Regions from separate parts of the Homo sapiens genome. Here region 2 is linked to region 1. Evidence: fine-mapped expression QTL. Tissue or cell type: whole blood. Region 1 holds a variant in brackets; the other region holds the start of a gene. All regions are shown on one strand. Distances are from middle to middle. Region 1 has its middle 97 kb from the start of CTD-2154B17.1. Region 2 holds the start of DAP (death associated protein).

Region 1 (2,912 bases):
GCGGCTGCATGAGGCCGGGAGCTGTGCTGTCGAGGCATTCACTTTACCTTCCTGAATTTTTCTCAACAAGTGTCTTCGAGTTCTCGAAGCTGAGACCCTGGGCATTACTAATGTCACCTGGGCTGCTCAAGTAGCTCCTTCGAATAACCACCAAAAGAACTCAACCCCAGCTTGACCAACATGGAGAAACCCCGTCTCTACTAAAAATACAGAAAATTAGCCGGGTGCGGTGGCGCATGCCAGTAATCCCAGCTACTCGGGAGGCTGAGGTAGGAGAATCGCTTGAACCCAGGAGGCGGAGGTTGCAGTGAGCCGGGATCGCGCCACTGTACTCCAGCCTGGGCAACAAGAGGGAAACTCCGTCTCAGGGAAAAAAAAAAAAAAAAGAACTCAACCAGTGAAAAAAGCAGGCCCCACCTCAGTCATACATAGACTTCTGCTGCATTTCTTAGAAAATGCTCCTTTGCCTTCTTTTGCCAGCAGGTGAGTGCACGCATTTGTCTAAGCGACAGGGAACTGCCCGTGCAAGGAAGGAGGGCCGAGCGGGTGGAGAGGGATGTGGAAATGGGAGCCACCTGCGATGCTCTGTATCTCCCTGTAGGGATGGCAGTAGCTAAAGAATGGTGAGAACCAGAACACCAGAGACAGGGAGGGAGAGATGAACAACCAGGTAGTCATCTAACCTCAAATAACAGCATAACAGTTATAAACAGCAAATTCTACCAAGTATTCAATTAACCCCAATGGAAATAGAAAAGGAGGAGCAGAGAAACCAAAAATAGATGGGATGAACAAGAAACAAATAGTAAAATAGTAGATCCGAATCCCACTTTATCTTTCAAATGTAAATGTAAGAGCCCATCATGTGTAAATGGACTAAACACTCTAAGAGGCAGAGGTAGTCTGGATGGATATAAAAGCAAGGCCCAACTCAAGAAAGCAAGATGTGCTTTAAATACACAGATATAGATAGGTTGAAAGACATGCAAGTAAGTAGGTGTTAAAAGATGTACCATGCGTATAGCGTAAAAATACTGGGGTAGCTATATATTAATATCAGATAATACACATCACAACAAAAAATATTACCAGAGATAAAGAGGGACACTTTATAATGACAAAGGGTCAATTAATCAGGAAGTTAAAACAATCATAGATGTATATGTCCCAAATCACAGATCTTCAAATAAAAATACACATGACTAATTTAAAGCAAACGTTATACCATGCCATGTGGAATTTATAATAGATATGATAGCTACAGCATCTAGGATGGAAGACAGATCAAGTGACCAGTAAGGCTGCAAGTTTCATTATGTTATATGAAGTAGTACCTTAGAAGTAAGTAGGCTGTGCACTATGTACCATAGCAAAGACTTGGAACCAACCCAAATGCCCAGCAATGATAGACTGAATAAAGAAAATGTGGCACGTATTCACCATGGAATACTATGCAGCCATAAAAAAGGA[T/A]GAGTTCATGTCCTTTGCAGGTACATGGATGAAGCTGGAAACCATCATTCTCAGCAAACTAACACGGGATGAAGCTGGAAACCATCATTCTCAGCAAACTAACACAGGAACAGAAAACCAAACACCACATGTTCCCACTCATAAGTGGGAGTTGAACAATGAGAACACATGGACACAGGGAGGGGAACATCACACACTGGGGCCTGTCGGGGGGTGGCGGGCTGGGGGAGGGATAGCATTAGGAGAAATACCTAATGTAGATGATGGGTTGATGGGTGCAGCAAACCACCATGGCACGTGTATACCTATGTAACAAATCTGCACGTTCTGCACATGTATCACAGCACTTAAAGTTTAATTAACAAAAAAAAGAAGTAGGCTGTGAAAAGATAAAGATGTATAGTCTAATCCCTAGAATGACCACTTAAAGTGCAAAGATAAATAGTTAAAAAATCAATAGCTGTATTACAGTGGCATTCTAACAAATATTCATTCAACACACCAATGCACACATACTCCCACTCCTCACATACCTCTTTCTTTTGGATGATGGAATCTACCAAACGAATAATAACATAGTGGATCTTTCATGAAGGCAAGTACTTCCTTAGCTTTTCTAATATAAAGTAGCTCCATAATTAGTTGTAATTTCGGTAAATTATTGCCCATTATAAACTGCTAATTCGATACATGTTCATTCCTTTCCGTAGCTAATTTAGAAAGTCTTCACAGTGGGGTTGATTCTGGTTTGTGGATTTTGTGCGTCTGGTTTTGTCAAGTAGAATGGTCCAACTATCAGTTCCAGGCCTCAGTAGAAAGTAACCCACGTAGTCTCACTTTCCTGAGGATCCTCAATAAACTTCCTAGAAGATGTAACTCTTGAGATTTCCTGAATGCTGAGTTCTGCCAGTGACAGGTGTAATCACCGTTTACATTCCTGATGTTAGTAGAGAAAAATGAGGCAGGCCCATTGGGGAACTCACACAGGAATAGACAATGATTTAACGCATAACAATGTGATGATCGTGGCTTTGGGTCTGGTCACTGTTTCCGTGAGCATGTACCAAGATGGTATGAGCTGTCCTTGCAGCAAGATGGAAAGTGCATTCCACTAGCTCCCTTAGACCTTCTCGCATGGATTGTGGTTCCCTGTGGGCCCCCCACATCCTGTATTCGTTTGATTGACTTCTCAGTCAAGTCTCTACATTTGTTTTATTAATGTCACTTTGAAATCTTGTCAAGAGGCAGGCATGGTGGCTCATGCCTGTAATCCCAGCACTTGGGAGGCTAAGGCAGGTGGATCAACTGAGGTCAAGAGTTCGAAACCAGGCTGACCAATGTGGTGAAACCCCGTCTCTACTAAAAATACAAAAATTAGCCGGGTGTGGTTGTGGGAGCCTGTAATCCCAGCTACTTGGGAGGCTGAGACAGGGGAATCGCTT
Region 2 (2,912 bases), 120 kb before region 1:
CCCAGTGCCAGTTAGTTTTGTTGTAGAGAGCCTCCGTCACCACTGAAAAATATTGCCTACTCTGGACTGCAACATATTTAAAGAACGGCTCCTATTCATTGTGCTGGTGCAGAGAATTCCCGCCCTATAGCGGAGGACAGCAGAGAAGGATAATGGGAATCTTTTTTTTTTTTTTTTTTTTTTTTGAGATGGAGTCTCGCTCGCTTTGTCGCCAAGGCTGGAGTGCTTTGGCTCAATCTTGGCTCACTACAACTTCTGCCTCCCGGGTTCAAGCCATTCTCCTGCCTCGGCCTCCTGAATAGCTGGGATTACAGGCGCCCGCCACCATGCCCAGCTAATTTTTCTACTTTTAGTAGAGATGGGGTTTCACCATGTTATCCAGGCTAGTCTTGAACTCCTGACCTCAAGTGATCCACCCTCCTTGGCCTCCCAAACTGCTGGGGTTACAGGCATGAGCCACCGCGCCTGGCCAGGAATCTTTATTGTCAAGAAAATGGCGCAAATGTGCCACCAAAAGAAGCCATGTTTCTCAAAGACTTCTGTTCCTACAAGACTGAGTTTATGACACTAAGGCGTGCTATTAAGACCTAAAAGAACCTCACGCATCCATACATTGAAGTGACTTGGCTTCTGAGACCCAAGGCCTTTGATCTTCTCACCAGTGTCCCTCCATATGGGCCGACTGCCACTGGAAAGGAGAGTAGAAACGGAAACAGACCCGTCTGGACAGAATCCAAAGTGCAAACAGGAACTGTGCCCAGAGAGAGGAGGAGGTGGCAGAAGCATGAAGGCTGCTTAGATCCCTATGTTCTAAGAAAGACCGCTCTTTCCTGGCTTTAACTTCCTTGGCTCAGAAGTTTAGGATTTGCTCAAAATCAGAAAAAGCAACTTTGGGGGAAAAAAAAAATCTGGATGTGGAAGAAACTGGCGGTGAAAGTCATATTGAGTGATTAATGATAAAAATTATTTCCGCTCCTTGGTTCTTGAGTCGGTATGAAACGCTGGCAGCCTCTAATTAATCATCACCATGATATTAACACCACTGACTTTTCATTGCTTCTGCTACTTTCTTTCTAGACATCTGTATCCTCTAAGTAAATATTATCCGCCAAAACTTTGTTATAAGTTGTGCAACTGGGTTCGCCCAAGGCACCGGAGCCTGCGCGCAATCGCACAGGTACGCGGCCGCCCGCGGTCCTCAGGAAGAAACGCTTCGCCGCCGCCGGCAAGCGGGGCCGAAGCTCCGGCGGGCTCCTCCCGGGCCTGGGCGCCCGACCTCTCCGCGGCCCGCGCCCCTCGGGCGGGCATCAAGGCCCGGAACCCGTCTCAGCGCTCGCCGGGGCCCTCCCCGCGGAGCCCCCGCCCGGCGCCCCCGGGTTCGAGCCCGCCCCCGGCACCCGCGCGTGGAGAGAGAGGAAAAGAGTCAGTACCGGCGGGCGGGTGTCCAGCTTTAGTCTCTAGTTTCCCTTCGGGAGGCGAAGACATGACGCGGCGGGGCTTCCGCGGGGCCGAGGCGGCGGCGCGGTTCTCGGGCCGGGCGGGCGTGCGCGAGTGAGCTCAGGTGTGAGCGCCGGGGAGCGAGCGGGCGGGAGAACGACGCGCGCGCGTGGGGCGCCGGGGCCGCGCGAGCCGGGTGAGTGCCACTGCCGTTAAGGGGGCGCGGCCGCCGCGCGCCGACGTGGCGCAGCCGAGCCCACCGACGGCATGCGCACTGACGTCACCGCGGCCCGCCCGCCCTGCTGGGCCGCGAGCCAAGCATACGGTGCGTGCGCAGCCGGCCGCGCCACGTCGGATGCTGTGGCCGGGGGCGGGGGCGGGGGCGGGGGCGGGGGCGGAGGAGGGAGGGGAGAGAAGGGGTGAAGAAGTGAGAGGGAGAAGGAAGGAGAGGGAGGCGGGGTCCCCGACTGGCTGCGGGGACTGGAGTTGCGGAAAGTTAAGTAGGGCCCAGCTGAGGATGGCTCCTGCAGCGAACGCGCTCAGCCGGGCTCCTGGCTACGCGGCGACGGCTGGGTGACTGCGCCCCACAGTGCGGGCCAGGGCCGGGGCGTCCCGGCAGGGAGGCGACCGTCCCCTGAGGCCCTCAGCCCCTGCCGCGGCAGCGCCTAATGAAGCGCGGAAAGGAGAGCCCAGATGGCAGCGACGGGGGCCGAGAGAGCAGGAATTTGTTAAAAGACGATGCGAGGGGAGAGCCTGCTTTCCGAGTGAGGGCCAGCGCTGGGGAGCAGAGACGGTGGCTTCTGTCCCTGCCCTCCTCGTTATGAACCAAAAATAAAATTCTAAGCCCTGCAGCCAACGGATGGACCCTCCCCTCCGCCTGTGGCCTTCTAAGTTATCTTGAAAAACTAGTTCAGGCCTTGATGGGAAGCGGAAGTCAAACATGGCCTCACAAACATCCGCACGGAGACCCTAAGACTAATAGAGGACTCTGATAAGAAACATTTGCAGTGTATTCCCGGCTTCATCTGCATGATAACACCTTGGTCTCCACAACTCCTTCATGCAACCCGGACATTCCCTTCTACTGAGTCCAGGTCTTTAGATGATAACTCTCAACCAGTTGCCAATCAGAAAACCTTTAAATGTACCTATGACCCGGACGCCTCCACTTCACATTTTACCTCCTAAAGAGCCAACCTACATCTTACGTATTGATTGATGTCTCATGTCTCCCTCAAATGTATAAAACCAAGATGTTTCCTGGCCACCCTGGGCACATGTCATCAGAACCTCCTGAGGTTGTGTCAATGCACGTCCTTAACCTTGGCAAAATAAACTTCCTAAATTGAGACCACTCTCAGAAACTTTTGGTTTTCACCATCATCTTCCTGTTGCCGTGGCTGACCCCTGGCTCTCGTGCCTTGGATCGTGTTCTTCCCGCCTGCCCCAGTGTTTTGCAACTGCTGTTAACTTCC

Evidence for each region.
Region 2: DAP starts here. The variant in region 1 is fine-mapped to the expression of DAP in whole blood (TOPMed, PIP above 0.99). The same link has a PIP of 0.9 or more in testis.

What each region holds. Positions count from the first base shown.
Region 1 is chr5:10,882,694-10,885,605 of GRCh38, forward strand. No RefSeq gene overlaps it. Among named protein-coding and RNA genes, the nearest start is that of CTD-2154B17.1, 97 kb to the left of the region's middle. The variant T/A (reference allele first, on the strand shown) is at 1,471.
Region 2 is chr5:10,759,584-10,762,495 of GRCh38, forward strand. DAP (death associated protein) reads right to left here and starts at 1,651. Exons shown (of 4, transcript NM_004394.3): 1 at 1,431-1,651. The coding sequence starts at 1,485. It overlaps DAP-DT (DAP divergent transcript), which reads left to right and starts at 1,453. Exons shown (of 3, transcript NR_187555.1): 1 at 1,453-1,633. RefSeq lists silencers at 1,207-1,636, 1,717-2,186 and an enhancer at 1,709-2,554.